2 separate regions of the Homo sapiens genome follow, and region 1 is linked to region 2. Evidence: fine-mapped expression QTL. A gene starts in region 2. The other region holds a variant in brackets. All regions are shown on one strand. Distances are between the middles of the regions.

The links. PIP is the estimated chance that this variant, and not a neighbour inherited with it, causes the effect.
Region 1: its variant is fine-mapped to the expression of CUX1 in whole blood (TOPMed, PIP above 0.99).

Annotation. Positions count from the first base shown.
Region 1 is chr7:101,794,903-101,799,282 of GRCh38, reverse strand. No RefSeq gene overlaps it. Among named protein-coding and RNA genes, the nearest start is that of CUX1, 21 kb to the left of the region's middle. The variant G/A (reference allele first, on the strand shown) is at 2,439.
Region 2 is chr7:101,815,064-101,819,443 of GRCh38, reverse strand. It overlaps CUX1 (cut like homeobox 1), which reads right to left and starts at 1,818. Exons shown (of 24, transcript NM_181552.4): 1 at 1,775-1,818. The coding sequence starts at 1,804. RefSeq lists silencers at 1,869-1,918, 1,969-2,038, 2,069-2,148, 2,219-2,538, 2,649-2,808 and 2 more and an enhancer at 2,634-3,562.

The DNA of each region.
Region 1 (4,380 bases), 20 kb after region 2:
AAAAAAATTTTTTTTTATAGAGACAGGGTCTCTCTATGTTGCCCAGGCTGGTCTCAAACTCCTGGCCTCAAGCAATCCTCTTGCCTCAGCCTCCTGAGTAGCTGGGACTACAGGTGCATGCCCAGCTATTAAAAAAAAAACAAAAAAAAAAACCTTTTTTTTTTTTTTTGAGACAGAGTCTTGCTCTGTTGTCCAGCCTGGAGTGCAATGGCTCGATCTTGGCTCACTGCAACCTCTGTCTGCCGGGTTCAAGCAATCCTTCTGCCTCAGCCTCCCGAGTAGCTGGGACTACAGGCAAGCACCACCATGCCAATCTAGTTTTTTATATTTTTAGTACAGATGGGGTTTCACCATGCTGGCCAGGCTGGTCTCGAACTCCTGACCTCAAGTGATCTGCCTGCCTCGGCCTCCCAAAGTGCTGGGATTACAGGCGTGAGCCACCGTGGCCAACCAAAAACAATCTTTATAGTGATGGGGTCTTGCTATATTGCCCAAGCTGGCCTCAAACTCCTGGACTCAAGCAATCCTCCCAAAGTGTTGGGATTACAGGCGTAAGCCACCACAGCCAGCCTCCTAGTCCCTTCTTAACTTCTCTTAAATCGTCCCTGTTTGATTCTGTTTCCTGCTAGTCCCCTGACGGATACAGCAGGAATTAAAAAATATATATTTAACTTGTACATAAGTGAATGGAAATGAATAAAGAAAACATGTACACAACTTAGCAAAGTAGGATTCAGTTGGGAGCTGGTTCACTTTTCCCTGTTGTTAGTATGCATAATACCACACTTTTCTTTCTTTCTTTTTTTTTTTTTTTTTTGAGACAGCGTCTCGCTTCATCGCCCAGGCTGGAGTGCAGTGCAGTGGCGTGATCTCAGCTCACTGCTACCTCCACCTCCCGGGCTCAAGCAATTCTCTTGCCTCAGCCTCCTGAGTAGCTGGACTACAGGTGCGCCACCACGCCTGGCTGATTTTTTGCATTTTAGTTGAGACGTGATTTCATCATGTTGCCCAGGGTGGTCTTGAACTCCTGAGCTCAGGCGATCCACCCCCCTCGGCCTCTCAAAGTGCTAGGATTACAGGCATGAACCACCACACCCAGCCTAGTATGCATAATACCATAATTTTTTTAAAAAATTTTAAGTTCTGGGATACATGTGCAGAAAGTGCAGGTTTGCTATATAGGTATACATGTGCCATGGTGGTTTGCTGCACCTATCGACCTGTCATCTAGGTTTTAAGCCCCGCATGCATTAGACATCTGTCCTAATGTTCTCTCTCTCCTTGCCCCCCCACCCCCCAACAGGCCCCGGTGTGTGATGTTCCCCTCCCTGTGTCCATGTGTTCTCATTGTTCAACTCCCACTTATGAGGGAGAACATGCGGTGTTTGGTTTTCTGTTCCCGTGTTAGTTTGCTGAGAATGACGGCTTCCAGCTTCATCCATGTCCCTGCAAAGGACATTAACTCATTCTTTCTTTCTTTATTTTTTTTTTGAGATGGAGTTTCTCTCTTGTTGCCCAGGCTGGAGTGCAGTGGTGCCATCTCGGCTCACTGCAACCTCTGCCTCCGAGGTTCAAGTGATTCTCCTGCCTCAGCCTCCCAAGTAGCTGGGATTAATTACATGCATGCACCACTATGCCTGGCTAATTTTGTATTTTTAGTGGAGGCGAGGTTTTAGCATGTTGGTCAGGCTGGTGTCAAACTCCTGACCTCAGGTGATCCACCTGCCTCAGCCTCCCAGAGTGCTGGGATTACAGGGGTGAGCCACTGTGCCCGGCCAAACTCATTCTTTTTTATGGCTGCATAGTATTCCATGGTGGCGTAATACCATAATTCTAATGCATCCCTGATTTAGTTCTTTTTCTGCTAACCTCTAAACACAGGGAGGCAGGCACCAAGCCTGTCTTCCTCCTTTCTCATTCTTTTGACTTCAGGGCCAGGCTGTGTCAATAAAGATGTGTAGAATGAATGAAGGCATTCCTGGCTGATTGTATGCAATGACAACATCTCTTGCTGGGTCTGAGGCCGAAGTCCTTTGCTGTTCTGATCTGAGAGCATTTAGCTCTGAGGATCAAGTGAGAAGCCTCAAAGGCCATGTGCTCAAAGCGTAGAACAGTCTGACCCCTGTTTCCTGCAACAGACAGGGGCGAGTTAAAGGTGATACACTCTCTTGCAAACGGCTCACGGGGTGTCCTGGGAACTCTCATGGGGAGACGTGGAGTTTCTGGTGTGGGTGAAGATTGGGAAAGACATTTGCAAAGTGAGGACCAACAGAGGCCGAGGGCTGGAAAGAACAGGCTTTCATCATTGTCAGGGAACTGTGACAGAGAGAAGCAAGCCCAGGAAACGAGTTGGGTAACCTTCAGCTTCTCCATTACTTTTTTTTTTTTTCTTTGAGACAGAGTCTCGCTCTGTCACCCAGGCTGGAGTGCAGTGGCGC[G/A]ATCTCGGCTCACTGCGAGCTCCACCTCTCGGGTTCACGCCATTCTCCTGCCTCGGCCTCCTGAGCAGCTGGGACTACAAGTGTCTGCCACACACCTGGCTAATTTTTGTGTATTTTTGGTAGAGACGGGGTTTCACCGTGTTAGCCAGGATGGCTTTTTTTTTTTTTTTTTTTTTTGAGATGGAGTCTCGCTCTGTCACCAGGCTGGAGTGCAGTGGCACAATCTCAGCTCACTGCAACCTCCGCCTCCTGGGTTCAAGAGATTCTCCTGCCTCAGCCTCCCAAGTAGCTGGGATTACAGATGCCCGCCACCACGCCCGGCCAATTTTTCTATTTTTAGTAGAGAGGGGTTTCACCATGTTGGCCAGGGTGGTCTCGAACTCCTGATCTCATAATCCGCCTGCCTCGGCCTCCCAATCTGCATTACTTTTATTAATAACACTTAGCCTTGAAGCATGGATCTGGAGACAGGCATGTGAAGGCATCCAGTTTGCAGAAAGAACTTGGTCAAGTTTGACTTCAACAATTTCTCTTGGAGGAAAAAAAAAAAGCAGCAGCTCTGAACTCCAGTGGGATTTCCTGCACCTTAAATCTTGGGCATCGAGATCGCCTGGGTATGGTCATCACTAAAAGGACAATGGTAGGGTATTGGAAGTAAGTAGCATAGGCCAGATGGGGTGACTAATGCCTGTAATCCCAGCACTTTGGGAGGCCAAGGCTGGTGGATCACCTGAGGTCAGGAGTTCAAGAGCAACCTGGGCAACATGATGAAACCCCATCTCTACTAAAAATACAAAAATTAGCTGGGCATGGTGGCGGGCACCCGTAATCCCAGCTACGTAGGAGGTTGAGGTATTGCTTGAACTGGGAGGTAGAGGTTGCAGTGAGCCGAGATCACGCCATTGCACTCCAACCTGGGTGACAAGAGCAAAACTCTGTCTCAAAATAAATAAACATATAAATAATAAAATGTCTGCTATAGTGTTTGGCACAGAATAGATGCTCAAATTTTGGGGAGCTAGGACTTATCATTCTGGTTCCACTTTGGTATCATTAGTCTGCTCATGGTGTGTTTAGGCCACCTCAAGTCCTCTGGCCAGACTCTTAAAGGAGGCCAGCCTCCATGGGCTCACACCTTGGTGAAGGCGGCATCCCCCACCAGGCATAGGTAAGTATGGACTTCTCCTCCAGGCTAGGCTGTGCTGTGCTAGGCCAGGCAACCCTGACATGCGTGGTATTAGGTGGGGCCGGAAAAAAGGGGCTTAAGAAGGTGATGCAGGGCTGGGTGCAATGTAATCCCAGCACTTTGGGAGGCCGAGGCAGAAGGATCACAGGGTCAAGAGATCGAGACCATCCTGGCCAACATGGTGAAACCCCATGTCTACTAAAAATACAAAAATTAGCTGGGTGTGGTGGCATGTGCCTGTAGTCCCAGCTACTCGGGAGGCTGAGGCAGGAGAATTGCTTGAACTTGGGAGGTGGAGGTTGCAGTGAGCTGAGATCACGCCATTGCATTCCAGCCTGGGTGACAGAGTGAGACTCCGTCTCAAAAAAAAACAAAAAATGATGATACAGAAATCAGGTCCGTAAAGCCCAGTTTCTGCCTTGGGCAGCTTCTAGGTCATGGATGGTGGAGAGATGATAGAAGTGGACACCACGTGACTGGACCCTCACTGTGCATCAGAAAGAGGGAAAGATTGGGAACGACAGCCCAGACCCTTCTGCTTTTCTTTTTTTCTTTTTTTAGATGGAGTCTTGCTCTGTCGCCCAGGCTGGAGTGCAGTGGCGCAATCTCGGCTCACTGCAAGCTCCACCTCCCGGGTTCACACCATTCTCCTGCCTCAGTCTCCTGAGTAGCTGGGACTACAGGCACCCGCCACCACGCCCGGCTAATTTTTTGTATTTTTAGTAGAGACGGGGTTTCGCTGTGTTAGCCAGGATG
Region 2 (4,380 bases):
TTGCAGAAGCTGCTTAAAGGGGAAGGCTGGTCACCATGTGGGAATAATGTCCCAAAGGGAAGGCAGTCATTGGCGGGCCCCGTCCCAAAGAGTTCAAAGCTCCACTAACATACAGAGTGCCATGAGCTTTGTCTTAGAAAGTGTCCTCCTTTCAAATATGTATTTAAAAGACAAATTTATACAACAGTGCTTTTCTTATTTAAAAAGAAAAGAAAACCTGGTTTTTACAAGTCTGAGATAGGATAAAAAACTTGTCCAACTAGTCTTAGCAATACCAAAGCACTGAAACTTCCATACCACAAGCCTTTGGGACTAAAAAGGAAACGGAATAAAACACAATCTTCAGAAATTCTCTTCCTGAGCACACACTCCTGTGCCAAGGCAGCAGCTTCAAGACCCAGGAAGCCGAGGGACAAGAACCCAGTGAGCCAGGGTTGCAGAACTGCGGAACGGCCCAACCTCACCTGGACCCGCTGACGTCTCCAACCTGGATTTCTCTCTGCAAAGACCGATCAGCCTCTTTACCCCCAGGTGGCAACCCAATCTCAGTATAAAGAGGTCTGGAAAAATGAGAAAAATCTGGAACTAATGAATTCTCTCCCAAACTCGTTCTATTGACTCACTGACTATCGGTGGGAATTAACCAGACACCAACTCCAAAGGCCTCCTCACCGCCCAGAGAAAGAACCAGATTGGCCTGAGACTTGAACTTTGACATTCCGTATTCGACTAAAGTTTGCAAACCCATAGGAAATCATCTAAGGCCAAATCGTTAGCAACCACCAAAAGCAAAGGAGTAAAGAGGAATGAAGTTCAAATAAGGGACTTTGTTTTGGGGTTTGGTTTTGATTTCTTCTTAATATCCACATAAAGTGCAAGTAAACTGACATGGAAACTTTCGATGGAACCCTGGAGCCCTGATCCCCTGAAGAAGTAGCTAATATGGGGGACAGGAAGGTTTAGAGTTCTTAAAATCTAGTAACTCTAGAAACCAAATCCATTTTCCAGGCAATTTTGCCAGGATGCTTTAAAAAAGACACTTCATTGATATTAAGCTAGGATGTCACATTTAGGAAGACAAGAGAGAAAAATAATAATAATGTTTGTCCTTAAAACTCCACAACGGGTTTTACAGTAAGCACAGGAATTAAATTATGGTAAAAGGGAGCTATTTTTACTAAAACAGGGTAGACCAATTTATCAAAAATGCCATTCGGCTGTGTTCATTACATCCAGGAATCTAATTTACACAATAGACACTTTGGAGTAATCTATTTTAGTCAATAAATACTTAAACTCCTTTAAGTTTTAATCTTATCGGAAATACATATTTCGCATAGTCTTCTTCCTAGTTAAGCGAGAAATTTCAGGAAATTTCATAACGACTATGACTCGGCTTTATCGTTCTTAGTAGGCAAGAGCAGAAAACAAGCATATACAATTAAAGTTGTCAGATTCCATTTAAATATGTTTTAATCCAACCCGCTTCGTTTGATACAAGCCTGCATCTCGAGCTTTGCTCCCAAAGGTATTGCGGTAGGTCACTGTCACCAGTCCTCCAGGTTAGGAAAGTTCAGCCAAGTTTATCTTCACGCACACCTTAGCAGTTGGGAGTAGCTGCAGTTCCCCAGGGGCCCTGAGGAACCCTCCTATCCCCTCCCAGAGCACCAGGCCGCCCTAGAGCATTCTAAGCCGCGGGACCCGGGCACCCCCCGACATCCCCGGTTCCCTCCGCGCCTGCAACCTCGGGACTTCTGGCCCACACGCCGCTCACCTTCAACCTGGCTCCGGCTACGCACAACATCCACCTGGCAGAGTCCCGGGGCTGTCCCGGCGCCGCGGGCGCCGAGCTGGCACGTGCGGGGCGGACCCTAAGGGTGCGCCGCTCCTCCGGGCGGGGGGTGGCAGGCAGGCACTCGCCCCTTGGGCACGGCGGCGACTCGGGCGCGGGCCGGGGAGCCCCGGCACGGTCCCCCCGCGGCGCCGGGGACTCCGCGCGCGGACCACCGCCCGGCATGCCACGGTCCCAACGGGCCCCCGGGGCTCTGCTTTCGAGAACCCGGCCCGAGAAGGCATCTCCGAGCGCACCCGCCGCGCGCTCCATGGCGGGCCCTGCAGAGAGGGCAGAAGCCCCGAGGGGACGCAAGGAAGGGACCCGGCGCCGCAGGTCACCGGGGGCCGCCGGAGCCCCCAGGCGCGCGGCGATCGCGGCTCGGACCGGCGGCGGGGAGGCAGCGTACACTGCCCGGGCACCCGGGGGAACAGCTTGGGGCCTGCCTAGGGGAAAGTTGCAGCCTCCTCCTCCCGCGCCCGCACCCGGCGGTCCGGGACACCGGGACCCAGCGACACTGCGCGCGGGGCACCCCCGCCGCCCCTCGCCAAGTTTCCCCAAAGAGCCCCCGCGGGGGTCCGCCACGGAGGAACAGGTCCGCGTCACCGACACAGGCACACAAAAGAGCGCGGCGGCCGCGAGGTGCGCGGGTGGCCCCGGGGCGCTCCCCGGGACGTAAACAAACCCGGGGGTCCGCGCCGGGAGCCACACGCGGGGTGCCGGAGCGGCGGCGCGGCCCGGGCCGGTGACAGCCGGGGGCGGCGGCCGGGGCCGGCCGGGGGTAGCGAGCGCGGGCGCCTGCCCGGCCACCCGCCCGCCTGGCCGGAGCCGGGCCGCGCCGCCGCCGCCGCCGCCGGTGGCCGCTCTGACCCTCCCCCGAGCCGGCGGCACCACAGCGCCACCAGCCCCAGCTCCGCCGCGCCGGCGGCAGTGGCGGCGGCTCCTCCTGGAGAGGCAGGCGCTTCACCCCCCGCAGCAACTCCCCACAAACTTTCCCCGGGAATACGGCGGGCCGGGGGCGCGGGGCGAGCGGGCGGGCGGGCGCCACCGCCGGGCCGCGGCCCCCTCCCGGCGCCCGCCGCCGCCCGCCCCCCGCCGCCCGCTCCCCGCTCCCCGCTCGCGCGCGCACCCCGCGGGCCGCCGGGGCCGCCCCCTCCCCGGTCCCGCGGCGGCAACGGCGGCGGCGGCGCTGGCGGCGGCGGCGGCGCGGGGCCCGGGGGGGCGCCCGGGGTGGGGGCAGACACCGGGGGCAGTGGTGGCGGCGGCGGCTCCCGGCGCCATCTTGGGCTGATCGATGAATTGAACAAAGAGGATCAATTTCCGATCAAGCGAGTGATCAATGGGGGCCGGGGAGCGGGAGGGACTCGGCCCCGACTCGGCCCCGCGGTGCCCGGCACCCCCCTCCTCCCCGCCGCCGCGGGCCCCCCGGCGGCTGGGCCAGCCCGGGGCCCCCGGCGGAGGCCGCGACCGCCCGCAGCCCCCACCCCCGGGCGCGAGGCCGAGCGCGGAGGAGCCTGACCTGCAGCTGCTGTAAATCAAAGCGCTTCCAATATTGAAACATCGATCCCACATTGGCCGCCATCTTGAGACATATTGAGACGGAGTGAGCGGCTGATAGAGAGGGGGCTGGAGTTCAGGAGCCGCCAGGAGGCAGCAGGCGGGCGGCGCCAAAACCCGGCCTGGAGCCGGCCGCCGCCGCCGCCACCGAGGACGCGGACTCCTCCTCACGGCACCGCCGCAGCCATGGCGAGCCCGAGCCGGAGCCGGAGTCGCAGCCCCAGGGCGCGGCGGCCGCGGCCCGGCCTCGCGCGCGCGGCCCCGGCCCCTGCTCCCCCAACCCCCCCACCGCCGCCCTCCCCCTCCCCTCCGCGGGCCGACCGGCGACCCCCGCCCCTCGGGACAACCCCCCCCAAAGTCCGCGGTCGCGCCGGCCACAGACCCGGCCCCGAGGGGGCGCTGGAGGGCAGCGCCCGGGGTCCCCCGGCACCGCGCACCTGGGGAGGGCTGCGGGGGTGGGGGGGGTCTCCCGCTGGGATCGCGATCGCCCGCGGTGGCCGAGCGCAGCGCCTTCAAGACTCCGGTTGGGGGGAACGTCGGAGCGCCCCTGTAGTGGTTAGTGTACAGAGCGCGGAGACGCCGCTACCACCTGCCCGGGACCCCCCACACCCGACCCCTGCGTGGCCCAGGCCCCCCGCAGCAGCGTGCGTGGGAGGCGCCCCGACGGTGGACGGCAACACTCTGATCCCTCTGCGCCCAGCGAGGACCGGGACACCGACACGACCAGGAACAGCGTGGCATGTTTGGAGGAGTGGAGTTGAGGGGGAAACAGCCCTGACCCTCTCAGGGGGCCGCGCGCGTGGATGCCCCACACCCGGACAGCGGCGGTGCCAGCGTCGCACCCGAACGCACCCCAACGGCGGTAGCGCTGGGGGTCCCGGCAGCCCCCATTCGCCCAAGCCGTTCCAGTTTAGGCCACGACAGGAAAAGTCTGGGAGCCCAGTTCTGTGTCCCCCCGCGCCGCTTCAGCGGAACAGCCCAAGAAACTTCCT